Regions from separate parts of the Homo sapiens genome. Here all the other regions are linked to region 1. The links come from fine-mapping of genetic effects on gene expression. A gene starts in region 1. Each other region holds a variant in brackets. All regions are shown on one strand. Distances are between the middles of the regions. Region 1 holds the start of CLTCL1 (clathrin heavy chain like 1). Region 2 overlaps HIRA (histone cell cycle regulator). Region 3 overlaps CDC45 (cell division cycle 45). Region 4 overlaps CLTCL1 (clathrin heavy chain like 1).

The links.
Region 2: its variant is fine-mapped to the expression of CLTCL1 in whole blood (TOPMed, PIP above 0.99).
Region 3: its variant is fine-mapped to the expression of CLTCL1 in whole blood (TOPMed, PIP 0.95).
Region 4: its variant is fine-mapped to the expression of CLTCL1 in whole blood (INTERVAL, PIP above 0.99).

What each region holds. Positions count from the first base shown.
Region 1 is chr22:19,287,491-19,294,902 of GRCh38, forward strand. It overlaps CLTCL1 (clathrin heavy chain like 1), which reads right to left and starts at 4,229. Exons shown (of 33, transcript NM_007098.4): 1 at 4,110-4,229. The coding sequence starts at 4,151. It overlaps LOC105372859 (a long non-coding RNA gene), which reads left to right and starts at 4,457. Exons shown (of 6, transcript XR_938002.3): 1 at 4,457-4,840. RefSeq lists an enhancer at 3,418-3,931 and silencers at 4,042-4,226, 4,108-4,347.
Region 2 is chr22:19,328,174-19,335,282 of GRCh38, forward strand. HIRA (histone cell cycle regulator) reads right to left here. Exons shown (of 25, transcript NM_003325.4): 25 at 2,525-3,383. The coding sequence ends at 3,267. LOC105372859 (a long non-coding RNA gene) reads left to right here. Exons shown (of 6, transcript XR_938002.3): 2 at 225-400; 3 at 1,802-1,907; 4 at 3,381-3,509; 5 at 5,529-5,570. Among named protein-coding and RNA genes, the nearest start is that of CLTCL1, 40 kb to the left of the region's middle. The variant G/A (reference allele first, on the strand shown) is at 4,861.
Region 3 is chr22:19,500,079-19,507,490 of GRCh38, forward strand. CDC45 (cell division cycle 45) reads left to right here. Exons shown (of 19, transcript NM_003504.5): 10 at 5,284-5,403; 11 at 7,308-7,412. Among named protein-coding and RNA genes, the nearest start is that of CLDN5, 21 kb to the right of the region's middle. RefSeq lists enhancers at 5,793-6,293, 6,294-6,794. The variant G/A (reference allele first, on the strand shown) is at 3,794.
Region 4 is chr22:19,181,392-19,188,449 of GRCh38, forward strand. It overlaps CLTCL1 (clathrin heavy chain like 1), which reads right to left. Exons shown (of 33, transcript NM_007098.4): 28 at 6,590-6,700; 29 at 6,167-6,337; 30 at 1,999-2,220. Among named protein-coding and RNA genes, the nearest start is that of SLC25A1, 6.2 kb to the left of the region's middle. The variant T/C (reference allele first, on the strand shown) is at 3,102.

The sequences.
Region 1 (7,412 bases):
GTGGGGATCAGTCTTTTCATGCCAGAGGAAACACGAAACCACTCCCTGAAGGACTTTAAGCAGATGCTCATCCTTGGAGATCATGTTGCCTGTGTGCTGGAGAATGGATCACAGGAGGGCAAGACTAGAAGTAGAAGGACAAAGCTAGCATGACCATCAAGGTGGGGAGGGATGGCATAGTTTAGGGAAACGGTAGTCATGATGACAGTGGCAGAACGATGCCAAAAGTAAACAGGAGAAAGGGACAACAGGATGGGGAAAACACATCCCAGGCTCCTGGCTGGACACTGGACAAGATACACATCTGGGGAGAAAGGGAACCCCATTTATGAACACTGTGTTTGAGGAACCTGCTGACCATTTCCTGGCCTTCTTCAGTAGGCAGCTGTCACAATGGCAGCAACAGCTCACAAGGACACAGTGCTTTACAGTAGTCCCTTCTTATCCGTGGTTTTTTTCACACTGTTACCTATAGTCTGAAAATATTAAATGTAAGACCCCAGAAATAAACAATTCATAAGTTTTAAATTGCATACCATTCTGCAGAGTGATGAAATCTTGCACCAGCCCACCCAGGACGTGAATTATCCCTCCTCTGCCCAGCATATCCACGCTGTAGACATTGCCAGCCCATTAGTCACTTAGTAGCGGTCAGTTACCAGGTTGACTGTTGCAGCATCACAGAGTTTGTGTTCAAGTAACCCTTAATTTACTTAATAATGGCCCCAAAGTCCAACAGTAGTGATGCTGGCATATTGTTATTATTGTTCTGTTTTATTATTAGTTATCATTGTTAATCTCTTACTGTGCTTAACATAAATTCAGCTTTATCATACATATGTATGCATAGGGAAAAAAAGTGTATAAAGGGTTCAGAACAATCTGCAGTTTCAGGCATCCTCTGGGGGTCTTAGAACATATTCCCCATGGGTAAATCGGGACTACTGTATTATGTAACAGTTATTGTTTAATGCTTTACATTTATTAACTCAAAAACCTCACAACTACCTTGTGAGATAAGAAGTATACCTTTTATCCTTATTTTATAGATGAAGATATAGAAGCACAAAAAAGCTACAAACATTGCCCTAAATCACACAGCCAGTAAGTGCCTGAGTCCACATTCAGTGCCTTCAGTTTGGCCTCAGTCTGTGCTCTTAACCAGGACCTGCTACTGCCTCACACACACACAGCAGTGAAACTGCGAAAACACTCGGATGGCTTGGGAACATCAAGCTTATGGGAATACATAACATCACCAGCAGCATGTCCTGAATGAAAAAGCAGAGGGGCTCAAGACAGATTCCAAGCTCATGCACAAGAGCCGCCCATGGGGCAGTGGGTGTGGGCAGAGAGGAAGGAGAAACCCTGGGAAACTGTGGAACCAAAAACAGTAGAGAAAGGACCCTCAGGAGGCAGTAAAGTGCAGCATCAAATGCGGCTGGACATCACAGAAGATGCGTGTGGTGTGATGGGCTTTATCTCACCTAGCTCATCGCATCTTATTTTTTGAGACGGAGTCTCGGTCTGTTACCCAGGCTGGAGAGTAGTGACATGATTTTGGCTCACTGCAACCTCTGCCTCCCGGGTTCAAGAGATTCTCCCGCCTCAGCCTCCTGACTAGCTGGGACTACAGGTGCGTACCAACACGCCCGGCTAATACTGTATTTTTAGTAGAGACGAGGTTTCACCATGTTGGCCAGGCTGGTCTCGAACTCCTGATCTCAGGTGATCCACCCGCCTCGGCCTCCCAAAGTGGTGGGATTACAGGTGTGAGCCACCATGCTCGGCCTGATTTTATTTTTTACAGCAAAGATTAGCCAACTGCAGCCTGCTTTTGTATGGCTAAACTAAAAGTCTTTTTCATATTTTTAGAAGGTTAAAAAATGTAAGAATATGGGACAGAGACAGAATGTGGCCCTTACAAAAAAGCCTGCAGGATGGCTTGTAACCTTGGCAAAAACAGATTCAGGGGAAAAAATGGGGACAAAAGCCAGACTGCAGGTTACTGTGGAACATAAAAATAATGAAGCACTAAAGCAGCTCTTTCATGACATCCAGCTATGAGACAAGAGCTTCGTGGGGACAAGAGCGGGGGAAGAAGTTTGCTGGTTGTACAGATGGAAGAGAGGTGAGCATTGCCCAACACAAACAGGAAGAAACAACAAGACAGAAGGATGAAAATACAGGAAAGGGAGGCTATGACTGAACGAGGCTCCCTTATAGGGAAGAAGGATACCAGATCCAGAACATAGACAAGAAAGGACACCTACTTTTGAGGTAACAGGAAGGCAGGAAAGGGTGGCTGCAGACAAACATCTAAGTCTGCAGCCATATAGGTGAGAAACATCCCAGTTATGGCTTCAGTTTTCTCCAAGTCATCTGCTGGTTGCAAGGCAGGAGTGGCAGGATCAGGGATTTAAGGAACAGGCTGAAGTCTCGAAATGTCTGTAGTGAAGGCAGTGTGTGCTGACTCAGTGTTTGCTCTACAGAATGCACAGCAGCCTCAAAGACCCAGTCAGTGTTAGAGACCACAAACCAGACTTGCATTCACGTGGCTGCCCACCACAAGCCACAAGCATTTTCCAGATAATGGAACATATCAACTCTGATGGACATTACAAATCCTGATGGACATTAGAAACTCTGATGGACACCTAAAATATCTTGTTGCTTTCTTGCCCTTTGAAAAGAACATATTTAGATAGTGGTTAAGCACAGGCATTGGAATCAGACCTGGGTTAGAACTCAAGCTTTGTCACTTACTAGCCATGTAACTTTTGCTGAAGGAATTAGAATATTAACCTCAGTGACCCATGGTAGAAAACAGGATATCACTATCTGCCTCAGTTATCATGAGGATTAAATTAAACCAGATTTATAAAATACAGTAGTCTAGTGAGTGGCAAGAGAAACGGCTCAGTAAATGATAACTACATCATCATCATTATTATGAGCAGCAGCAGTATTTTGCTACCTCAACATGACTGGTGCTGGCTTAGCTTAGTGGCAGAATGAAGCCCGGACAGATGTCAGGGCACTCCCACCTCCATACAACTTCCACTGTGTCACTAACCAAGTGACCCTGGCAGGATCCCCTGGATATCAAGTTTCCAGTCTGCAGAATGAGGGGACTGGACTGCACTACACAGTTCCCAAGGCTTTTCCCGTCTGCATCTAGGGCTAACAGTGCTCTGCACTGTGAAAATAGGAACTTTCAAGCAAGCACGTTCCTCGATGTACTACTTTGTGGTCAAAAAGACTTGAGTCTGAATCCTGTTCTTATTGAATGAAGATGAGTTCTTTAACACTTTTGAGACTCGGTTTCCTCATCTAGAAAAGAGTAAGCGAATCGCAACGAATGGTAGTGTGATGATTTAACACAGAGCACTCAGGGAGGAGCCGCTGGCTATCCCTCCTCTGCCGCACCTCCCAGGGTAAACGTGGGGACCAGCACCGCTCCCGGGCAGACCCGCGAGCGGCCCGCACGACGCCCGACCTGAGCCTTTGCTCAAAGCAGGGGGCCAGTCCTTATGTTTCTGAACACAAACAAATGGAGAACAAACTGGGACCTTATTAAAAAGGCAGGCTTTGGGGGTGTTACTGCATTGAAAAGCCCTATTTAGGCTTGGCCCTGAGAAATTTTTCTCTTGGGTCACGCATGTTCACGGTCCTCCCAGGCGAAGCCGCCCTGGGGACGAAAACCGATCACAGAGGCAAACTCAGGGGCGAATAAGGACCGCAGGACGCCAAGGAGGGGCGTGGAGCTGTGGGATCCGCGCGGCCCTTGGGTTGCCCTGCCTGCAGCGGGAATTTGTGTGCCTCCTCGCGGGCACTGAGCGGGGCGTCCCAGGGGGCGTTGGCTTCCACCCCCACCATTCCCCAGCCGGCCCCGCCGGTAACGGGCTTCGGCGACGGCACCCAAGCGGGTCCTCAGGAGCGGCCGCCGCGCCCGGGACGCCGCAGCCCCAGCCCAGGTGGGAGGTCGGAAATCGGCGCGGCCAGCTGGGCAGCGGCTCAGCGGGGCTGGGGGCGCGGGGTCAAGCCTGGCAGTCCGGCCCGGCGGAGGCGCGGCTGACAGGGCAGCCCCCCAGCCCGCCGGGCCTCACCTGGAAGTGCTCCTGAAAGCGAACAGGGAGGATCTGCGCCATGGCTGGTGCGGGACCTCGGCGGCGGCGGCGGCAGCGGCAGGAATGAACGCCGACCCCTCGCGCGGGCTGACCGGTGGCGACGGCGCAGGCGCAGTGCCCCGAGCTCCCGGTCCTGGCCCCCGCCCTCCTCCCTGACCGCGCCCCGGCCCGCACCCCCTTTCCCCGCCCCTTCCCCCGCCCCTGCCCCGCCCCTGCCCCGCCTCTGCCCCGCCCCTGCCCCCGCCCCTGCCCCCGCCCCTGCCCCCGCCTCTGCCCCGTCCCGCCTGCGCGGATCCCTCCGCCCGCTCCGAGGGTCCGCGGAAAGTAGTCCCGCGCGCCCTCTGCCCTGACGCGGTGTGTGCCAGCTACCCGAGTGAAAGGTTTTCGGGGGATTAATCCTGATGGGGTCTGCGGCGGCCCTTGCCCAGCGCCTTCCACATGTGGAGCGGGCCAGTGGTGCTAGTTCTGCCGCCAACTCTGGACGGTTGAGTTCAGGGCCACTTTTTACTCAGGCACGGATGTGACAGAAAGATGGAAAAGGGTCTTGGAAGAACCACATGTGCCGTATAACGAACGACCTTTTGGTCTGAGGAGGACCGTGTATATGACGGTGGTCCCATAACATGATAACGGAGCTGGAAACTTCCTGTCCTCTGGTGAGGGCTTAGCTAAGGACATTTCCTCTCCTGTATTTGGAGATACACGTACAGGTATGTCATTACCGTGCCAGGGGAATAACGCACCTCACACGCGGTGCGGGTTTGCGGCCTAGCAGCAGCGGACCGCATCAGCTGCCTAGTTGTGTAGTGGCTGTGCCATCTGAGTTTGTGTAAGTTACCTTGTGATGATCCCACAACCGAGACGCATGTCTCAGAATGCATGGATGCATGGGACGCGTGACTGTACGTGTTACAGACGTGTTTCGGCGTGAGGCTCGGCCCCTGCTCCTTTAGGAAACACCTTTCCTGGCTCATGCGGTTTCTAGAGAACACTGTGTCGGAATATCAATGTAGAGAGTCAGCGAAGGTCATCTAGCAGCAGATGACCAGCCCCAGGCCAGTGAGGATCACCCAGAGTGCCCGTGGCTGCACGACAGTAGTAGCAGGTGGAAGCTGGAGCCCACACCTGGTTTGCCCAGCAGCCAGTTGTTTTTCCGAGGCACCGTTGGCTGATGTTTTGCATACAGATGATTCAGCTGCATAAAAGATGTCTGTCAGGAAAGGGAAGCCCTTGGCATTCAGCACAGGCACTCCCTACGGGGTAATCGATAGCCGTCTCTGCTGCTTCCCATGTTGCTCACTGGTAATTTTAAGAAATGAACGGCCCACCTTGAATAAGACAAGGATGGTGCAATTATTTGCGCAATGGCTTGACCATCTAGTAGCCAAAAATATGTTAAGGAATAGAACAGACTGTTCACTTTCAAATTAAATCTCTTTTCCAGTATTAGCCAAGACCTCTGCAGCCCGCCCTTTCTAAAATCCATGTGGCCTCATCCGCTAAATATAGAGCTGGGTTTTGCTGTGGTTAGTACTACATTTCCCAAATCTCTTTATTTTGGCAATGATGCCTGTGACTCCAAGTACCCTTTACCCCAAACATTATATAAATTTTTTAGTAATTAATACCATCACTCCCTAAATCACCTTCCCCAGGGCTTTTTGGGGATTAAAACTAAAATTTTATACCCTAAAAGAAAGAATTTAAGAAAATCATAGTTAAGCAAAGTGACAGGATTGTTAATACGTCGGGACCTCAAGTGGGGATTAAGTTTCAACATTAATTTTAGAGGAGACACAAATCTTTCTGTCTCTTCAAACCATAGAAGAGACAGAAAGCACAACAGTTATTTGAATAGACAGAAGTGAATATAAGTGATAGTTGTAGTTAACAGGAAATAAAGTTGTTAATATACTTGTAAAAAAATTAAATGTTCTGACTTGAAAGGGACTTTAATATTCTCACCACTTGTAGGTAACTTGCTAAGTAACCCTAAAAAAACCTTTCAATTCTTTTTTTTTTTTTTTTTTTTTTGAGACAAGAGTCTCGCTCTGTCGCCCAGGCTGGTGTGCAGTGGCACGATCTCTGCTCACTGCAACCTCTGCCTCTCAGGTTCCAGCCATTCTCCTGCCTCAGCCTCCCAAGTAGCTGGGACTACAGGCGCACGCCACCGCACCTGGCTAATTTTTCATTTTTAGTAGAGACAGGGTCTCACCATGTTGACCAGGCTGGTCTCAAACTCCTGGCCTCAGGTGATCCATCCACCTCGGCCTTCCAAAGTGCTGGGATTACAGGTGTGAGCCACCGCGCCTGGCCCGGGATTAAGTTTCAACATTAATTTTGAAGGGGACACAAACCTTCAAACCACAGAAGAGAGAGAAAGTGCATCAGTTATTTAAACAAAGGGAACTGAATATAAACAATAGTTAACAGGAAGTAAATTTAAAATAATAAAAAGAAAATCCCAAGATATGGAGTTACAAACATAGGACACAGCTACCACCCCTAGAGCTCAAAGATGAAAGAGAAGCTGGAATTATTACAGCTTAAAGGAAGGGCTTGCAGAGCTGGAATTCAGATCTCTGAGGAGGTGTGTTGACCAGCTGGGGCTGGGGTCATTGAGCCCAGAGGAGAGATCCCATGGGGATGGGACTCAGACCTCTGAGGAGGGTCCCTACGGGACTTAGACACACACTATGGATGAGGGGTGGCTGTGGAGCTGGGAGTAAGCCCTCTAAAGAGGGCACTGGGAGACTCTCACCCAGATCTCTAAGGAGAAGGCATACTGAGGCTGGTTCTGCAAGTCTTGGAAAAACTTAAACTGGATTCAGCTTCTGTGGGAAGAATGTGCTGCTGCCTTGTTGAAGAAGCCTAGCTGGGGTGATGCTCACAGGAAGTGGCCCTGTGGTCTCCCTCTATCAACCTATCAGCTTAGTCTAATAGGGAATATTAGATCAGATCTTCTTTATTTGCCAATGAGAAATATGTTTTTTAGAGTCTCAGCCCTGGCATCAGAAGCAGTGTCTAGAGGTGGGAAGGGAGAATAGAGCTGAAAGACATTATTTAATAACTGGTACAAGAAACGACATGTTATAGCTAAATTCCAATTCCCATGGGACTTTCCTATAGGTGGAATTGAAAAGTCTGTGGAGGCGTATAATCGCAGCGCTTTGGGAGGCTGAGGTAGGAGGATTGCTTGAGCCCAGGAGTTCAAGACCAGCCTGGTCAACCCCATCTCTTCAAAAAAATTTAAAAATTAACAGGGCATGGTGATGCATGTCT
Region 2 (7,109 bases), 41 kb after region 1:
CACTCTTGTTGCCCAGGCTGGAATGCAGTGGTGCAATCTTGGCTCACTGCAACCTCTGCCTCCCAGGTTCAAGTGATTCTCCTGCCTCAGCCTCCCAAGTATCTGGGATGACAGCCATGTGCCACCATGCCTGGCTAATTTTGTATTTTAGTAGAGAGGAGGTTTTACTATGTTGGTCAGGAAACAGTGTGATCATTTTGGGTCTTGCTTTTATTTTTTGGTAGGTGGATCTGAAGCAGTGCTGCCTTAGTCTCCTTGGACTCTCAGCTCCATTTCCTCAGCTCAAGTAGTCCACTGGGCTCTACCTCAGTTCTGCCTCCTCTTGCTGTGGCCTAGAAATTCTCTCTGGATATCAGAAAACAAAGGACAGTAATCCCTGCCAAGATGGGATACAAACAAGGTGAGCCCCATGATTGCCCAAGCGTACTACCTGGAGTGTCTTCTTCTGTTTTTTTCTTTTTCTTTTTTTTCTTCAAGATGGGATCTTCCTGTGTTGCCCAGGCTGGAGTGCAGTGCCATGATCATGGCTAATTGCAGCCTTGAACTCCTGGCCTCAAATGGTCCTCCCACCTCAGCCTCCCATGTAGCTAGGTCTCCAAGCGCATGCTACTGTGCCCAGCATGGTATCCAGTGTCTTGAAACCACCATTGCATGTATTTTTGACGGGCTCCTTTGGTTGTTTCAGGTAGAAGGGTCAACCTGGTCCCTGTTACTCCATCTTGTCTGTAAGTTGAAGGCCTTGATGTTTTCTGCTTATCTCTTCATCATCTCCAAACGGTGGTGGTAAAGTCACTCACGACTGCTGTTTCCTTCAAGGGAGGAAACGTGCGAAGACTTTGCCCACACAATCTCAATTTGTCCTCATAACGTTGCAGATTTTTTTTTTTTTTTTTTTTTTTGAGACGGAGTCTTGCTCTGTTGCCGAGGCTGGAGTGCAGTGGCGCGATCTTGGCTCACTGCAACCTCTGCCTCCCGGGTTCAAGCAATTCTCCTGCCTCAGCCTCCCGAGTAGCTGGGATTACAGGTGTGTGCCACCACACCCAGCTAATTTTTGTATTTTTAGTAGAGACGGGGGTTTCATCATGTTGGTCAGGCTGGCTCGAACTCCTGACCTCGTGATCTGCCCACCTTGGCCTCCCAGAGTGCTGGGATTATAGGTGTGAGCCACTGTGCCCGACCCCAGTGCAGATTTTTTTAGTCTCAATCTCTATTTGACAGCTAAAAAACTGAGGCCCAGATGTTTGCTGGTTTGGAGCCCAGACAGGCCTGTTGGCATATATTGCTTCCTGGAGCTCCACAAAGCTCGCAATGTCTTGCTGCATAGTTGCTAAGGGAGCTGCCTCACCTGCACAGCAAGTCTCTGGCTCTTCATTCCTTAAGAGTCCCACTTGCAGCCTGGCTTTTTATGTGTACACACACACACACTCACACAAACTATCCTGGCTTTATTTGGCATGAACACATGCCTGGGTCTCATCCAGCCACTTGACATCCGAGTGAGACATGGAGTGGAATGGCTGCTAGGCCAGAGATCAGTGGTCAGTTACCCCGGCCTCTGACTCCAAGTCCAAGGCTCCTTCTCCAGGCTCAGACCCACACACTGGGTGGTGGTGACAAAGATCAGGACCCAGGAGTGGGTGGTACTCAGCCCTCACTGTGCTTAAAGATTCTGTGATTCTGTTTCTTCTCCTGTAGATCAACGTCTGGATCACTTTCTAATAAAATTCCAACTTTGCTGATAATTCTCCAATATACCCAAGACTGTAAATACTGATTTCCTTTCATGAAATTGTCCAAACAGCTGCAGCCCTTGGTGCACAGTATGATCTGGACCTGGGGCACAGCAAGACCAGAACCATGAACCACCATGAACCATGACTCCTCACTTGTGAGATGACGTGTGCAAGGTGACCTATGGTGCTTCATGACCACAGAAGTGACCACTCTACACTGTGAAATGAATTTCTGCATGGGGGGTATATTAGGGTTCTCTACAGGGACAGAACTAATAGATATATATGAAAGTTTATTAAGTATTAACTTACACAATCACAAGGTCCCACAATAGGCCATCTGCAAGCTGAGGAGCAAGGAGAGCCAGTTCGAGTCCCAAAATTGAAGAACTTGGGAGTCCGATGTTTGAGGGCAGGAAGCATCCAGCACGGGAGAAAGATGTAGGCTGGGAGGCTAAGCAAGTCTCATCTCTTCACATTTTTCTGCCTGCTTTATATTCGTTGGCAGCTGATTAGATGGTGCCCACCTGATTAAGAGTGGGTCTGCCTTCCCCAGCCTGACTCAAATGTTAATCTCCTTTGGCAACACCCTCACAGACACATCCAGGATCAATATTGCATCCTTCAATCCAATCAAGTTGACACGCAGTATTAACCATGACAGGGGGGAATGAGATGACACAAAGGATCCCTTCTGGCTCTCATGTTCTGTCACCATCTACTTCAGGAGAGAGATGCACTGTGTGGGGAGGATGAAAGTTAGAAGGAAAAGGCAAGAGAAATCAGGAGGGTTTGGTATTCAATGCGTGTTCATTTATTTTACACTTACAAAAGAAATCGCCCACCCCTTTGCCCCATTCCCCCAAAACAGTCTCTTTTTACAAACATTTAAAAATTAAAACCAAATGAAGATAGACAAGTTAATTTCAGTACAATTATTTTTCAGTGTAGCTGTCATAATTAGAGTTTAAATTTCCTACAAGTGACCAATGTCCAAGTGACTTATAGGGAAATCCTGATTATCGGCCAAAGGAAATTCAATATTACAAGTTAGCAAATTCTAGTACAAAAATAGTCCGTGTGTTGGAACAGCTTTCCTTTTACATAGGTCTTAGGTCAGTCTGCTGTAATACCTAACGCTTCCGGATTCTCTCTCACAAATGGCTCAATCGTCACTGCTGAAGCAGCATGGTGCCTGCAGCAGCAGGGGCTAGTGTCCACCTTGGGGCCGTGCTGGAGACGGCAGGCCTGGGACTGCCTTGCTGGCCCCAGGGCACCTGGGCAGAGCTCCAGCCCTAGCTCCGCATCGGGGGCTTGGAGGGAGGGATGAGCTTCCCCCTCCTGAGGCAATGTCAGACCCAGGACACAGGGCACATCTGCCCAGGGAGCTGGGCTGGCGCTGGTGCAGGACAGCACATCTCCTGCCAGTGTCTCCTCCCCCTACAGCCTGGTCAGGTGAGAGGCGGTCCTGCATGTCATCAGCGGCGAGAGTGTGGCCCTGCCCTTGCTGCAGCCAGGGCAGGCTGGGGCAGGCTACTTGTCCCTCAGGATGTCGAGCTGTTCCTGACACTCGGTGAAGAGGCGCTGGAATCGGAGGTTCTGCCCGATGACTGGTAGCAGCTCCTTCAGCAGCTCCCTCTTCCGCAGACCCTGTGGACACAGAGTGACAGCTGAGTGCAAGTGTCAGTGAAGAGACCTAGATTGTGGGGACTTTCCTGGCCTGGCAGAGAACCTTGTGTCTGCTCACGGGAGAAGGAAAGAACAATTCCTCTGCAGGTGAGAAACTGTGAGAGAGCTGTGGGGCAAATGTGCAGGATGAAGTGGCAGGTGGAATGGGAGCAACACAGTGTGGGGATAAAGGAGGATGAGGCCAATGCAGGGTCTGCTCCTCCATCCGTGGGCACAGCCACTGCTGACCTTATAGTGACTGAGCAGTTCCCTGACCATCCAGGGCAGGATGAGAGTAGAACAAGGCTGAGGGTCAGGTGGCTGGCCATTCAGGAGGGGCTGTTCCCTCATGCTGATGTTTGCCAGGGGTTTGAGGTCAAGCCCCAGGGCAAGGATGCACCTGGGGGGCAGTGACTGGCTTTAGTTTTCCAGCAACACAAATGAGGTGCCAGTATCCCCTGATGTGGAGGATGTTCGGATGCTGACCAAACTATGCTTAGTTGCCTAAACATCCTCCACGTCAGGTCATATTGGCACCACAGTCTGAAACAAGCATTGCCAGTTGGGGTCTCTGCTGCACAGACCAAAAGAGCAGACTCCTGAGCAGTACGGCTGCTCCAAAGGGAAAACTACCAGCCAGACAACTTTAACACTGGACGAGAAGGTCTAAGATCTTGAATTAACGGTGACAGATATACCTGCAACAAGTCTAGAAGTGACAGTAAAGAATAAGTGTAACTATTAGGTTTGAGTAACACAGAAGTTGTTAGAGATGGGATAAGCAGGAGAATGGCTGCTGTTGGCGACCAAGTTTGATGGAGGAGCAGCCCACACTCCAACAGGGAGGCTCTGACACCAGAGTGCCATAGTCAGAACAGAGATGGTATGGATTTGCAAAGGCTGAAATGTTTACTATCTGGTCCTTTACAGAAAAGTTTGTCAACTCCTAAAATAGATCATGTTTTCTAACTAAAATAATTGAGTAAAACTCATAGGTCAAAGGGGAATTCTAATTAAGTGAAATTAAAAATGACTTGCAAGAGAATGGTAAAAAAAAAAAACCAACACAAAATACTCCAAAAGTGGTAAGATTCAGCAAAAGTGGGCACTTTAGAGGCATTTAGAAACAACAGCTTATACTGTATTAGAGAACATGAAAGAATGACAAGCCAAGACTCCAACCTAAAGCCATCAGGGGAAAGGAAAAAAAAAAAGACTAAAGAAAAAAAGGACATGAGAAAAAAACATTTTTTTTAAAAAAAGGAGATAATAAAAATTGAAATAAATAAAATAGAAAACAAAGATTTAATAGAGAAGATTTAGAAAAACAATTTTATTTTATATATTTTTTTGAGACAGGGTCTAGCTCTGTTGCCCAGGCTGGAGCGTAGTGGTGCAATCACAGCTCGCTGCAGCCTCAACCTCCCAGGCTCAAGTGATCCTCCTGCCTCAGTTACCC[G/A]AGTAGCTGGGACTATAGGTGTGTGCCACCATGTCTGGCTAATTTTTATATATTTAGTAGAGCGGGGTTTCACCTTGTTGGCCAGGCTGATCTCAAACTCCTGAGCTCAAGTGATCTTCCTGCCTTGTTCTCCCAAAGTGCTGGGATTAAAGGCGTGAGCCACTATGCCTGGCAAAAGTCATTTCTTGAAAAGACTAATGGACAAACGTCTGGCAGGATTAATCAAGAAAGAGAGAGAAAGCTTAAAGAAATAATATTAGAAATAAAAAGAGACATAACTACAGATATAGAAGAAAGAAAAAGATATGATTACTATCAACTTTATGCTAAGAAATTTGAACATTTAGAGAAAATGGAGAAATTCCTAGAAAAATATAATTTATCAAAACTAGCTCAAAAAGAAATAGAAAGGAAAAGTTAATTATTACCATAAAGAAAACATCAGGAATACTATTTTAAAACTGACATCAAGGATGAGATTTTCTTTGTCTTTCCTTTCCCACAGTTTGACTAATGTGTCTCAGTGCAGGTTCCTTTGGGATTTTCCTACTTAGAGTTCACTGAGGCTCTTGTATTAGTAGACCCCCGTCTTTCCTCAAATTTGGAAAATTTCCGCCAGTATTTCTTCAAATAAGCTCTCTACTCCTTTCTCTCTCTTACACTTCTAGAACTCCCATTATGGATTCATGGGTATACTTGGATGGTGTCTGGTAAGTCTCTTAGACTCTGTTTGCTTTTCTTCATTCTATTTTCTTTTTGCTCCTCATACTTGATAATTTCAAATGACCTGTTTTCAAGTTTGCTGATTTACCCTTTTGTCTATTCGAGTCTGCTGTTGAACCCTTCTAGTGAACTTTTCAATTCAGTTATTGTATTTTTAAACTCCAGATTTCTGTTTAGCTCTTTTTTTGGAATTTCTATCTCCTTGTTGATACTCTCATTTTCTTTTTTTTTTTCTTGAGATGGAGCCTCGATCTGTCGCCCAGGCTGGAGTGCAGTGGTGTGATCTCGGCTCACTGCAAGCTCCGCCTCCTGGGTTCACACCATTCTCCTGCCTCAGCCTCCCGAGTAGCTGGGACTACAGGCGCCGGCCAGCACGCCTGGCTAATTTTTTTGTATTTTTAGTAGAGATGGGGTTCCACCATGTTAGCAAGGATGGTCTCGATCTCCTGACCTTGTGATCCGCCCGCCTTGGCCTCCCAAAGTGCTGGGATTACAGGCATGAGCCACTGCACCCGGCCCTCATTTTCTTCATATATAGTTTTCCTGATTTTGTTTAGTTGTCTGTATTCTCCTTGAGCATTTTTTAAGACATTTATTTTAAAGTCTTATGTCTGATGGGCACAGTGGCTCATGCCTGTAATCTCAGCACTTTGGGAGGCCAAGGCGGGCAGATCGCTTGAGGCCAGGAGTTCGAGACCAGTCTGGCCAACATGGCGAAACCCCATCTCCACTAAAAATACAAAAATTAGGCCAGGCGCGGTGGCTCACGCCTATAATCCCAGCACTTTGGGAGGCTGAGGCGGCTGGATCACTTGAGGTCAGGAGTTCGAGACCAGTCTGGCCAACATGGCGAAACCCCATCTCCACTAAAAATACTAAAATTAGCCAGTCCTGACCTCAGGTGATCCACCTGCCTTGGCCTCCCAAAGTGCTGGGATTAAGGCATGAACCAACGCACCCGGCAGTCCTTTTACTTTTAAGCCATTGTGTTATTACATGTAAGCTGGGTTTCTTATAAGCAGCATACAGCTGGTTGTTATTAATTCTAATCTGATAATCTATGCCTTTTAGACCTATATTTAATGATTATTGATATATTAGGGTTTAAATCTACCATCCTATGTATGTTTTTCTGCCTTCTTTTGAATGAATGTATTATTTTCTATCATTCAATTTTATCTATTTGTTAGTTTTTTAGCTACGATTCTTTTTACTGCTTTGGGATTTGTATGTGTATGTGCATGAGTTTTATTTTTTGGTTTTGGTGGTTGCTCTAGGGCATATAACATACAGTATATGCCTTTACTTATCATAGTCTGTCTTCAAGTATTATATCACTTTGCATAATGTGTAAAAATCTTTTAATGGTATACTTTCATATCCCCACTCCTGGCGTCTGTGATACTGCTGTCATGCCACTTCACTTCTACATATGTTATAATTACAAACTACATTTTCATTATTTGGCTTAAAAAGGCAGAACTTTTTGACTTTTTTTTTTTTTGAGACAGGGTCTTGCGCTCTGT
Region 3 (7,412 bases), 210 kb after region 1:
CCCTGAGTCCCTTCGTGTGTTAAGAGTAGCATGGAATTTGTGCACAGATAATGTAGGGGCTAGAAACACCATGGTGTATGCACTGATAGGCACTGTTCCTGGTCTGTAGCAGTCTCTCAGGTGAGGCCCCCACGGTCACTGTCCTGGTTGGTGGCCCTTTGGAACCTAGAGTGGGGTCTTCCTGCTCTCATTGTGCTCAGTGGCACTTCCTGTACAGGATCTGTACCTGAAACTGTCCCTATAAACTTTACAAAATTAATGAGGGCAGGGGGAGGGGAGAAATGAAAATGAACCCAGCTCGCAGCACATCAGCATCAGTCACTAGGTCGGCGTGCTCTCTGCCTGCTTCCTCGTAGCTGCTTGGTGTCTCATTGCCTCCGAAACATGTAGACCCTGTCACAAGATTGTAGTTCCCCTAACTGCTCCATAGATCACAACTTGAACCTTAGGAAATGCCGTTTTCCCTTTGAGATATTTCTTTGGGTCCCACATACTGATGGAGCTACTGACTGAGCTGCTCCGAAGGACCCCACGAGGAGCTGACTAAACCAAGAGTGCAGTTTGTACACCCTGATGATTACATCCCCCTTGCCCCACCAATCAACTATCCCAATTTTCCAGCCCTCCACAGTCTCCCTAAAAGCCCCAGCCCAAAACTCCTCAAGGAGATGGATTGAAGATCTCCTCCCATCTCCTTACTTGGTGCCCTGCAATCATGAAACTCTTCCTCTGCTGCAAACTCTGCTGTCTCAGTGTAACAGGTCTGTTACTGCACAGTGGACATATGGACCGCCTGGTCCTATAACACATTTTGGAGGCCGGGCGCGATGGCTCACCCCTGTAATCCCAGCACTTTGGGAGGCAGAGGTGAGTGGATCACCTGAGGTCAGGAGTTCGAGACCAGCCTGGCCAATATGGTGAAACACCGTCTCTACTAAGAATAGAAAAATTAGCTGAACATGATGGCACACCTGTACTGTAGTCCCAGCTACTCGGGAGGGTGAGACAGAGGAATCGCTTGAACCCAGGAGGCGGAGGCTGCGGTGAGCTGAGATCGTGCCACTGCACTCCAGTTTGGGCAACAGAACAAGACTCCGTCTCAAAAAAAAACAAACCAAAACAAACAAAAAATTATGGAGAGCCTACCTGAAGCCCCTTATGGGTATTTGCCTGCGGCTAGGTGCCCCTTCACTGTTCGGTGGGCAGGACCTAGAGACAAGCCCAAGTGGCCACTGGGCTCCATTGAAATATGGGCTGTTGCTGGTGCCCTGCCTGTTGACGGAGCAGTGTCAACCTTCGGTGCATAAACTGCTCGCAGCAAAGACAGTTTCTGGTTTTCAAAGGCATTAGAAAAGTTTTCTCCATGCAACTGGCACCCCTTTCTCTTCTGATTTGCTGGCCTCCTTGGAGGTCTTGTGGCCTCCTCAGAATCTTGTGACATATTATAACCCTTTCTTAACTGGAAATGACCCAGACACCCAACAAGCATCTAAAATAATTTTAGGATTTTAAGCTGCATGGAACGTTTGCCTAGAAGCATTCATACAATTTACATTTCATGCATTTTTAAGTTTGCCTAGATTACTTATGAAAACTGAGAGACAAAACTAGTCATCATTTCAAATTATTTTATTGTTAACCTTTTTCTTTTTTTGAAATGGGGTCTTGCTCTGTCTCACAGGCTGGAGTGTGTTGGCATGAACGTAACTCACTGCAGCTTTGACCTCCTGGGATCAAGCAATCCTACCACCTTAGCCTCCCATGTAGCCGGGACTACAGGCATGTGTCGCCATGCCTGGCTAATTTTTTTGATTTTTTTGTAGAGATGGGGTCTTACTTTGTTGCCCAGGCTGCTCTCAAACTCCTAGGCTCAAGCAATCCTCCCTCCTCAGCTTCCCAAAGTGCTGGGATTACAGATGTGAGTTGCCACACCTGGCCTTCTTAATCATTTTTATAGCCTGTGACCATCAGATGTTCACCTAAGAACCTTAAAGTTAAATGCATGTGTATTTTTGCTGACAACTCAGAAGATTCAGCTGTTATCATTAAACCAACAATATTCATCTTATTTGTCAAAAAGTCATACAAAGATCATTCTGGTTTTGGTTAGTTTTACAGTCTTAAAACCTTTTATGCAAAGTCCTGACACCCTAAATATCCAGTAGAGACAAATATAAAATCGTTCAGTCAATAAACTCAGAAAAAAGATGTACGCTGATAGTTTTGAAGACGTTTCTATTTTTATTTTACCAATAATTTTAAAGCCAGCTTATTTACTAAAGATCATTTAAGTCACATGAAGTTGAAAAATATTTGAACTTATTTACTTTGTTTATGAGCACTCATTTATTTATAAGCCAATTTGGTAGCATGTAGGCACAACACATAACACAACATGTACATACATCTAAATTTATTTTAACCCACATACACACACATACAAAGGTACAGCTTTTACTGCAGAACTCTAGCCATGAGACAGCAGTACAAACTCACCAGTTTATAAAAGAGGGCTGGATCCAAATTATTTCTGACAAAATTGGAACCATTCACATAAATAAACTTTGTTTATCCCAGTAGGTAATTCAGTGAAGGCTGTGAACTAAAATTTTGAATAAAGCAGTTTCTATAGCAGTTTGATTTTAAAAACTTACCCTTTCTTTTTTTCTCCAGTTTCAAGTTTTCAATGATTACATTTTAGCTACAACTGGCTGAGCTGTATAAGCAAAACAAAATCTCCAAGTAGCTCTGAATAATACCATAGACAGTGAGTCTTTTCTCAATACCAGTAGCTTAATAATACCAGATTCAAAGCAGACAGAAAAGAGACAGGGGTGATGGCTCATGCCTGTAATCCCAGCACTTTGTCGGGGGTGGGAGGATTGCAGGAATCCAACCTAGGTAACATAGAACCCCTCTCTATAAAAATAAAAAAAAAATCAGCTGGGCATGGTGGTGCATGCCTGTGGTCCCAGCTACTTGGGAGGCTGAAGTGGGAAGATTACTTGAACCCGGGAGGTCAAAGCTTCAGTGAGCTATGATTGTACCACTGTCCTCCAGCCTGGGCAACAGAGTGAGACCCTGTTTTAAAAAAAGAAAGCAGGCAGAAACTTTCTCATAGTTTTTCCACAGGAATTTCTTCTTTTAGTGGGTAGGTTACCCACTGCACTATCCTGATGAAGATGTACGTCTCTTGTCTTCCCAGTTTCACAAGATGCAGCCCAGTGCCCAGCTTGGAGTAACCAAATCAATATTTCTCATTCCAGCTGAGACGATATACACACAACAAAAATGCAGACACTGATCATTCCACTCTGCGCCCAGATTTGACGTGGCGAGGCTCATACTTGCCCCTGTCAGCCCCCAGCACCTTTGATCTACTCAAAGTTGGGAGGAATTACCTCCAACCAGGAGTTCAGCGGGTGGTCTCTGGGCAAGATGAAAAAGTATATGGTCAACCTGAGTTAGGCCTGCTGAGCTGCTGCTAGCAATTCCTTCAGGGATCCCTTTCACAAACATAAACCTACATAACAAGACAAAGACAAACAAAAGGCCTTCCGAAATCAAGTTCCAAATTTCAGAAGTCAAGAGGATTTCTCCCAAGCAGTGCTCTTTGGTCTCCTTCCAATGCAGAGGAAGTCCCCTCAAACGAGGCCCTTCCTATTATTAGGGAGGGTCGACAAGACCTCAGAAGAGGCCTCGAGACTTCAGAGGGAGCCACAAAACCTTTGAAGAGGCCACAGGACCTCCAAAGAGGCCAGCAAATCAGAGGAGAAAAGGGTGCTGGTTGCAC[G/A]GAGAAAACTTACCTAAGATGCCTTTCAAAACCAGAAACTTGCTTTGCTGCGAGCAGTCTATGCACCAAAGGTTGACATTGCCCTGTCAACAGGCAGGGCACGGGTGGCAGCCCATATAGTTCAATGGAACCCAGTGGCCGCTTGGGCTTTGGGCTTGTCTCTGGGTCCTTCCCACTGAACAGCGAAGGCGCACCAAGCCGCAGGCAAGCAAATGCCCACAAGGGGCTCGAGGCTAGACTCACCATAATGTGTTATAGGACCAGCAGGTTTGTATGCCTGCTGTGCAGTAACAGACTTGTTACACTGAGACAGCAGAGTTTGCAGCAGAGGAAGAGTTTCATGATTGCAGGGCACCGAGTGAGAAGATGGGAGGAGATCCTCAAATCCATCTCCTTGAGGAGTTCTGGGCTGGGCTTTTTTGGTTTTGTTTGTTTGTTTGTTTTTGAGATGGAGTTTTGCTCTTGTTGCCCAGGCTGCAGTGCAATGGCGCTGTCTCGGCTCATCGCAACCTCCGCCTCCCAGATTCAAGTGATTCTCCTGCCTCACCCTCCCAAGTAGCTGGGATTACCAGTATGCAGCAACACGCCCGGCTAATTTTGTATTTGTAATAGAGACGGGGTTTCTTCATGTTGGTCAGGCTGGTCTCAAATTCCTGCCCTCAGGTGATCTGCCCACCTTGGCCTCCCAAAGTGCTGGGATTACAGGCATGAGCCACTGTGCCCGGCCTGGGCTGGGGCTTTTAAGGGGACTGGAGGGTGAGGGGCTGGAAAATTGGGAGAGTTGATTGGTGGGGCAAGGGGGATGTAATCATCAGGGTGTACAAACTGCACTCTTGGTTTAGTCAGCTCCTCGTGGGGTCCTTCGGAGCAGCTCAGTCAGTAGCTCCATCAGTATACAGGACCCAAAGGAATATCTCAAAGGGAAAACAGCATTTCCTAAGGTTCAAGTTGTGATCTACGGAGCAGTTAGGGGAACTACAATCTTGTGACAGGGTCTACATGCTTCTGAGGCAATGAGACACCAAGCAGCTACGAGGAAGCAGTCAGAGAGCACGCCGACCTAGTGACTGATGCTGATGTGCTGCGAGCTGGGTTCATTTTCATTTCTCCCCTCCCCCTGCCCTCATTAATTTTGTAAAGTTTATAGGGAACATTTCACCCACTCTGCTGTGGATCCCTGTCACTTACGGAGTCTGTCATCTTGGCTGTATGGGCTGTGGCCTCTGCGGTGCCCATTCTCAGGAGGTGTGAGACCCATGAGGACCGGAGGTGGACAAGGCTAGAGACCACACCCCCCCGCTCCATCCAATCATGTTTTCCTGGGTGCTTGGTTTCTATGCAGGCTGCATGTCCTTAGTCCCTGCATGGGAACAGCTCCTGTGGTGAGCAGGCCCCTGAGGAAGGCCTTGAGCGGGAATGGAGCCTAGGCTTAGGCTGCCTGGTAAGAGCTGGAGGGAACCAGCCGAGGCTTGTGCTACTTTTTTTTCCAGAATGAAATACGTGACTGATGTTGGTGTCCTGCAGCGCCACGTTTCCCGCCACAACCACCGGAACGAGGATGAGGAGAACACACTCTCCGTGGACTGCACACGGATCTCCTTTGAGTATGAGTATCCTTGTGGCCCAGCCTGAGGGGCACAGGCAGCACCCCTGCTCAGCAGGCCTTGTTTGCTTTGTCACCCTCTGTGGGTTCTGGCCACATCCCCAGGAGGGAAAGCAGGTGGGGCAGGAAGTTTTGGGGGAAGGGGCTGTGGTGTGCTACCCCAGCTCATCTGTGTGGCTTTGGCTTCTAAATGCCAGAGCTGAGTTTGGAAGTATCACCCTTCTCCAGCACATCCCTGTAAAGTGCTTATTGTGGGCCTGGCTCTGGACATGGTAGCAGTGCGGGCAGTGGTTCACGCAGTCAGGAAAGAAGGCAGCTGCCATGTAATCACACAGCGTGACGTGTCTTTTGAGAAGCACATGGGACATTGGTGGAGTGCTCAGAAAAGACCATGGGGAGACCACATCTCACACAGTCTCAGCCACACTCAGTGTGGCAGCTGCTGTACTGAGCACAGGAGGGGCTGGGGGACTGGCTGGGGTCAGGTGTCAGGAGGCCAGAGCAAGCCTTGTGAGCCAAGGGCAGCGGGAGGCTGTGGAGTGACCAGAGTTTGAGTCAGGGTTTTTAAAAGGTCCCTTGGCTGCCCAGTAGAGGTAGGTTGGGGGCAAGGAGATGGTCACTGCTTTCCAAGGCCACACAATAGTGGCTTGGCCCAAACTGCAGCAGTGGCTGTAAGCAGTCAGATAGCATGATGTCAGGGACGGAGCTGCCCTGTCTCTGCACTGTGATGGCTGGGAAGGAGGAAGAGTGAGGGTGGACACGTCAGTAGTCAGGTGGCCATCGGAGCCTGGGGAGCGGGGTGGAGCTGGCTGAACTCCTGGGGAGGGGAGCCGCTGTGCACTGGAGCTGGTCCCATCATGTGCGTGGCAGGGTGGGCTCACTTACCCAGGGACCATGGGAGTGTGTGACTGAGACAGGAGGGAGGGAGTCAGGGAGCTGAGGATGCTGGGGCTTGAGGAAGCTGCTGGAGTGTGGGCAGGGAGCATGGTGGTCTGAAGGCCTGGGAGTTCCCAGGAGTTGGGAGGGGCAGTGGTGGGAACTGAGCATGCCGAGGAAGCAGGCAGGACCAGGCTCTCGTCCTGTAGAGGGGAAATCCACCGTGGGGGACAGTCCACACTCACAACTGCGCTCACGGTGCCAGGGGCAGTGATGGATATGTTTAAGAAAAGGGCTGAGGAGGTCGGGCGCTGTGGCTCACGCCTGTAATCCCAGCACTCTGGGAGGCCAAGGCAAGTGGATCATGAGGTCAGGAGATCGAGACCATCCTGGCTAACACGGTGAAACCTCGTTTCTACGAAAAATACAAAAAATCAGCCAGGCATGGTGGCGGGTGCCTATAGTCCCAGCTATTCGGGAGGCTGAGGCAGGAGAATGGCGTGAATCCAGAAGGTGGAGCTTGCAGCGAGCCGAGATCGTGCCACTGCACTCCAGCCTGGGCGACAGAGCGAGACTCCGTCTCAAAAAAAAAAAACGAAAAAAGGGCTGAGGATGGGGGCGCTTCGTGGATGGGGTCCCAGTGGAGGGCTCTCCGGAGGAATGGGTTGTAGGGAGGGCTGGGCTAGGTGGAGCAGGAGGTGCAGGACGACAAGCTGGTGACGCCCAGCCTCCTACGTCATGTGTGGCCATGACTGCTCCATGTGACCACAGCACCTGGACTTTGCAGACCCCTGTGCTCCAGATTCTCTGCCTGTCAGACGGATGGTGGTCTATGCCTGTCACTTCACAGGCTCTCTGTATGGGTCAGCTTAAGCTAAGAAGGTCAAAGGGCTCCAGGTCACTCTTGGGATACCTGGTTTTGCAGGCAGGCCTGGTGAGAAAGGGCCCCGCCATCAGAGTGGCCCACCTGCTGGAGTTACGAGAGTGCTCAGGGCGGCCAGTGGGTGCTTGCATGCTCCTTGACTGCAGGCCCAGCCTCCGCCTGGTGCTCTACCAGCACTGGTCCCTCCATGACAGCCTGTGCAACACCAGCTATACCGCAGCCAGGTTCAAGCTGTGGTCTGTGCATGGACAGAAGCG
Region 4 (7,058 bases), 110 kb before region 1:
AGGGGCGGCAGCAACTGTGCAGCTAGGATCCCCTCACAAACACACTGAGTAAGAAAGAGAAATAAGAATGTGCCCCCCATGAGCTGGGGTCTGGGGGGGGCTGAGAAATGAGGAGGAAGCAGGGGGCACACTTGCTGACACCTAGGGTGAGGGCTGAGCTAGGCCTGTACCCTCCCTACAATGGGAGAGCGCTGGGGGCGTCTCAGAGGGATGGCCCTCAAGCTTCCCAGATGAGCCACGAGGCCCCAGGCCCAGCTGTCCACCAGGAAAGGACTGTGCTTCTTGTCCGCGCCCTCATTCTCCCAGCACTGCTGTGTGGTGTCAGCTGAGCACCAGCTCAAGCTGACAATCAGCTCACACCCCCATGCCACTGACTGGGAAACCCCTTGCCAGCCCCCTCCTCTCCTTGAACTCTCCCCATGACAGGCGTCTCATCTGCCCCAGCAGGAATAGGTGGGTGGCAGCAGAGAAGGTGCTCCAGCAGCCACCACCTCCCAGGGCCAGTGGAGTCTGGGAACCCTGGGCCAAGGCTGTGCAGCCACAGTGTGGACCAACGTGATAGTGGCTGCTAACTCCATCATCCGCAACAGAAAGGGAATGTGCGCCTCAAAGTCCTGGGGGATCCCCACAAGCACTTTGACCCCCACAGCAATGACACTCCCTAGGGCCTGGTGAGCCTGAGTTCCTCTGACACTAACCCACGGGCCTCTACTGCCAGGAAGAGATTCAAGCACTTTCTTTCCTTGTGCTGGTTCTCAGAACACAGACTACTTTCAGGAAAGACACCCGAGGGATGGGAAAACCTGCTCATCATGGTGACAGCAGCTTCCACAGGCACGCACCAGACACCGCACACCACACACTGCATACCACAAACCACATACCACACGTGCCGCCTGTAGGGAGTTGCCATCCACTGTGGTGGGGGAACCAGGGCCCTTGTCAATCCAACCAGTCCATGTCCCCTGGCAGCCCACGAATCTCAGGCCACGTAGCCAGGGCTGTCCCTTCCTCCCCAACCCTTGAGAGTCATCAGGGAGTCTCACTCAGGCATGCTATGCAGATGGGATGGGGTCACACTGTCCTACAGGAGGGCAACGGCCTTGAATGGACTCTGGGATGGCCTTTATCAGGGGCTGGGCAGCCCCCTGGAGGCTCTGCAGGCGGCAGGCAGCCCTCCAGGCTAAAGCTGGCAGCATGAGCCCGCCTTCCTGTTTCCTTCCTACCTCCCACTCACCTGGGAGGCCCCTCCCTTCCCTCGCTCCACTGAGTGATGCTTCAGCATGAGTGCCTTCCGAGGCTCTCCATCTGGCTTGAAGGAGGTTAGATAGGCAAGTAGATGCTACTGGAAGTAGCTTTTCCAGTGTTAGAAACAACAAACTGTACCAGATGACACTGCTGACACAGGTCTCTGGACAGTGGCTAAAGCTAGATCCCAGCAGGGACTCCTAGGACTTCAACACCCAGGGAGAGTTTTACAATCAAGTACTGTCACTTCGATGAGGCAGAGAGTCATCCTCCCTATAGCTGTTAGAAGGATTCAGTGGATCTGTGAATACTCCTACTATGTGTTCAGCAAAAGGCAGCTACCACCAACCGTATGCTAACAGCTGCACCCCCAGACGCCACTGGGAGCTCCTCAGGGAGCTGGGATTGCCAGCCACCTCACTGTCACCTTGTTGAAGTCCAGGGCTGGGGATGAGCACGCCTGTTGTGCTCCTAGCAGTGTGCACATTGGGACAGCTGCCCAGCCAGAGTCTACAGGAGGGCTGCTGCCAGTGGGCACTCCCCATGATGATTTTCTGGAGGGGCTTAACGTTGGGCAGAAAACCACTTCAGCATGAAGGAAAGCAGCCACTCCTGAAGGCAGCCAGGGCTGGCTGGGGAATCTGGGTTGGCCTCAAAGGGGCCCACCCTTAAGACCTGCGGCCAGAGTCACTGCCAGGGTTGGGTCATGCCACACAGGGGCCGGGGAGCTGCAGCCGGCCCGGCACCTACCTTGCTCAGGTACTCCCTCATCACCTGGATGAAGTAGGGCATGGCCAAGTCCACGAGGTTGTGCCTCCAGGCCAGCTCAAGCACCATGTCTGGGCGAAGCAGGTCATAGCAGGTGAAGAGACAAGCTGCGAAGCACTCCCTCTTGCCTTCCTCCAGGAACCACTGCAGCAACTTCTGGGCCAGCTCAGCATCCCGCGACTCTGCAGCATGCTGCATGGCATCCTGCAGCCAAGGCAAATGCTTGCTTGGGCATCCTGCAGGCAGAGGCTTTGTGCCTGCAGCAGCTGGGCCGGAGGGCAGGGAGTGGCACTAGACTCCACCAAGGACTTCCTGCGCTGTGGAGCAAGCCTGGACCCATGGCTGGGCCATTCCCTATGCCCTGCTGCCCACTGGTGAAACGGAGATGCCACCTCCGGAGGCTCTGGAGGGGACAGGTGGCTCACGGAGGCGCAGGTGCCCTGGGAGACAGGAACTCTAGCCCCGAGGGCAGAGGGCGTGCACAGGCTGCTCTGAGGAAGGCACTGATGGGAGTTTGGGGGTTGTGGGGCTGCTGCAGAGGTGCTGCACTCAGGTCCATGGAGCGTGTGACACCAGGGGAGCAGTTAGGAGGGGTACGGCTACTGCTCTAGAAACAGCAATGTGTTTTTCTTTCAAGTGGCTCAAAAACCCCTAACTGCTATTTTCATCCTTGCAAATGTATTTGTCTAAGACAATATCATTGACAAAATAACACCTGCACCTGACCAGTCCTGAAGAAGCCTGCACTTTCTGTGGCCATTCTCTATTTTCTAGCTCCACAGCAGGCACTGGATCACCTGATTCCTTCTATGGCAGGGGCTATTAGTACCCCATTCAGAGACCAGGAACCTGAGACCCAGATGTAGTCACTTGCCCAGGGCCACTCCACCTGGAGTTGGCCATGATCCACTGACTGTGACCTGTGCTCTCCAGGGATACCCTGTGGCGGTCCCAGCTCTGCATGCCTGCCATCGCCTGCAGCACACACCTCTGAGTTCCGTTTGGGAGACCCCTGAGGACGCCCAGTGCCCACATCTGCATGGACCCGATGTGCTGAGCTGGCTCCGGAAAGAAGTCTCCCCCGC[T/C]GGCATGCTGCTCATCGATCGCTGCCTCCTGACCCACACTGTTCCTACAAAGGCACCAGGATTCTGACCCTCAGGTGAGAGCTCCAGGTGCCTTTGGGTCTCCGCTTTGAGGACCTGTGACGCCCGCTCATCTGTCTCCCTGCCGTGCCCTCCACCGGCCCAGCCTACCCTTGCTGACTTGTCTTCCACATGTGCCTAAAGTGGGCCCTGCTCTGTTCCTCCTCTGTGGGCCTTGGGGACTGTCTCACTGCCTTCCCAGAGGACTTCCAGTAGAAGCAGCCCCCAGGAAGCTCCCAGTCAGTGTCCCGCTCCTGCGGCCTGGAGCCCAGCTCGAGTCAGGCTCTCCCACACCCTCCTCTCTCATCACCTCCCCGGCCCATGCCACTCTCAGGGAGGCTTCATCCTGGTCCCCATCCCTGTGTCCAGCTCTCCAGTCTACACCTGTACTTCCGCAGGCCCCTGCTCTTCACTGGTGGGTGTGGGAGGGCCCCACTGACCGAACTTTCATTTAAATGCTACTTCTGTCATCTGGAAATACAGTTTTCTGTTGCTAGCTGGCTTTGCCCTGACTGGACACGCTGTGACCTGGCCACTCCTCCAGGAAGACTCCAGGAGGCTTCAGCTCTGGCCTCAGGGCAGGCTCCTCCAGTGGCAGTGCTGACCTTGGGAGGTCTGGGGAGCCGCCTGTGCACTGGGGCTTGTGGGCCCCATCCCTGCCTCTACGGCCTATACACAGCACCACGCCCTAAGCTGTGACAACCAAACATTCCCTGGGGTCACAGTCATTCCTGGCTGACAGCCACTGTTCTGGGGGAAGCGCGCTCGGCCACTTTCTTTTTTTTTTTTTTTCTTGAGACGGAGTCTCGCTCTGTCACCCAGGCTGGAGTGCAGTGGCGTGATCTCTGCTCACTGCAAGCTCTGCCTCCTGGGTTCACGCCATTCTCCTGCCTCAGCCTCCTGAGTGGCTGGGACTACAGGCTCCTGCCACCACGCCCAGCTACTTTTTTGTATTTTTAGTAGAGATGGGGTTTCACCATGTTAGCCAGGATGGTCTCGATCTCCTGATCCTGTGATCCGCCCGCCTCGGCCTCCCAAAGTGCTGGGATTACAGGCATGAGCCAACGCGCCCGGCCCTGTGCTCGGCCACTTTCTATCTGTGGCTTTGTCCTCTGGACTCTCTTCTGGGCCCACGTGGCTCGGAGTGGGTGGCTGGCAAGGCCAGTAGGCCTCTGGCAGCACTGATGGCCCTGCTCACTCATCACTGCCTGAGTGTTGAGGAGGCTGTGTGTTTAAGCCCCTGACAGGGACCACATGGGTAGGACAGAATGGCTGTGATCAGCCAGCCGAGGGCAGCCTTCCCTCAGGTGCGTCTGAGCCCAGCTGTCTCCTCCCAGCAGCCAGGTCCAGAGACCTCCAGGTGCGGTCTCAGAGCCTCAGCAGCTTTTCCTCTCCATTCCCTCTGCAGGGGCCCTGTGGGCACCTCAGGAAGGATCACAAGCACTGTCACCAAGGGCTAGGATATGTCACAGAACAGTCCAGAACACTGGAGGTGACAACTTAGGGTGAAACTCAATGCAACACTGATGCAGGCATCAGAGGCCTCCACGGAGTCTGAGCCAACAGCCGCAGACCAGGAGCCATGAGAATGAGGCCCCTGTGCGGGACAGGAAGTGGCAAGTATCCATGTGTCCTGTGAAGATACTCAGGAATGCCTAAGGCCAACTCCGTAAGTAACACCCTCAGGTCAAGTCCAGAGTCTTTGGGCACAAGGAGCCCTTGGGAATTGGCTCAGCTGCATCACACAGCACCCACAAGGGCCCTCTTGTACAACTCCACCTCACCCCCGCGGGGAGATGTTCAGGCCAAGCAGAGGATGTTAATGCCTTCAGGGTCTTGGGGGTCCCTCCAGGCAGCCCAACCTGTCTAGCTGATGCCCAGATCCCGGTCTGAGAATGATACTAAGAAACCTCTCACCAGCAGAAAAAACACAGTTTCTTTTTCCTCTCAAGTGATCCTCCCACTTCAGCCTCTAAAGTAGCTGGGACTACAGGTGCACACAACCGTACCCAGCTTTGAAACAAATGTTTTGAATGTGATTTATTTATTTTTTTCCTTTTTTTTTTTCCGAGACAGAGTCTCACTCTGTCACCCGGGATGGAATGGAGTGGCGTGATCTCCGCTCACTGCAACCTCCGCCTCCTGGGTTCAAGCGATTCTCCTGCCTCAGCCTCCCAAGTAGCTGGGATTGCAGGAGTGCACCACTACACCCGGCTAACTTTTGTATTTTCAGTAGAGATAGGGTTTCACCATATTGGCCAGGCTGGTCTTGAACTCCTGACCTCAAATGATCTGCCCACCTCAGCCTCCCAAAGTGCTGGGATTACAGGTGTGAGCCACCACGTCCAGCCTTTGAATGTGATTTTAATTTAGGTTTTTAAATTCCTCAAATCTTTTTTTTTTTTTGGAGACAGGGTCTCACTCTGTTGCCTAGAGCAGTGGTGTGATCATAGCTCACTGCAGCCTCTGACTCCTGAGCTCAAGTGATCCTCCCTTCTCAGCCTCCCGAGTGGCTGGTACCACAGATGTCCATCACTACACTTGGCTAATTTTTTGTAAAGATGGGGTCTTGCCATGTCGCCTAGGCTGGTCTCAAACTCCTGGGCTCAAGCACTCCACCCACCTCAACCTCCCAAAGTGCTGAGATTACAGGGAAGTTCCCAAATCTTGATAGGAAGTAAAGTAGGTGCCAAGAAGTGAATCTTGCCACACTGTGTTTTGGTAGAGTGAAACTCACACAAAACTGCTGCGAAAAGAATCAACTCCGTAAAACTCTACAAGTCTTTCAATCCAAACAGTTTTTAAGGGGTGCTAGCTCACTCCCAATTCTTACTCTATGTTCTAAATATGGTCTCCCATTAATACTAATCCCCCCACCCACCACGAGGATCCCCTGGTGAAGCTCAGAGCCAGGTCTCAGGAACAAGAGGGAAGGGATGTGACCCCCAAAGCCATCAGGAAACACACCAAGGCAGGAAGGTGGGAGGAAACGGGCCCAGGCCACCAACCTTGTAGAGATGATCCTTCTTGCAGAGCTCCACGCTCTGGGCCCACCAGTTATTGCCCTTGTACAGATAGGCCGCAATGCACCTGAACTCCATCAGCTGATGCTTCTCCAGCTGCTGAGCCAGGCTGATGTTGTCAAAGTTGTCATAGGCATCGATAGATGCCCTTAAGCCCTAGGAAGACAGCCTTTCTGTGAGGGATGGGACACTGACATGGGCTGCCTACACATGGAGCAGGCACCTTGTGTTACTTGATGGCTGTTGCTATCAGCACAGCCTTAGAAAGGCCCCTGCCCATATATCCACTGGTGTCCTGTGGGGCCTGCACACCCTCCTGTGCAAAGGCAGCCTGCTTTGAGAACAGAATGGCAGTTGCAGGGGAGGAGCCCAGCCCACCCAGGACAGGGCTCCTTCCTGCACACCCACCTGATAGTCCTCCTCCTCTGTCAGCAGGTGGTTGAGTGCCTCATTCACACTCTTGTTGTTGTGGCTCTGGACTGACCGCAGGTAAGGCTTCACCAGGGGCAGCTGACCTGCCTGACAAGTTGAGGGAACCGTCAAGGCACTTGGCCAAGCTTGTTATGGGGACACTAGGCAGGGGCACAGGTGGGCACGTGCGTGCCATCCACTTGAATGGTCCAGCTCTGGAGCCAAGGGCACCTTCTGGACACCTAGAACCAAAAGACCTACACTCACACAAAGAGGACTGTCTGGGCGATTCAGTGGATGCCAATGTCACCACAGACATTCACACCTTAGAGAGACACATGGGTTTGGGTCCAGACCACCACAATAAAGTGAACATTGCAATAAAGTGAGTCATATTAATTCATGTTTACACTATGTTGTAGCCTAAGTGTGTAACAGCATTATGTCTACAAAAACACAGTACACA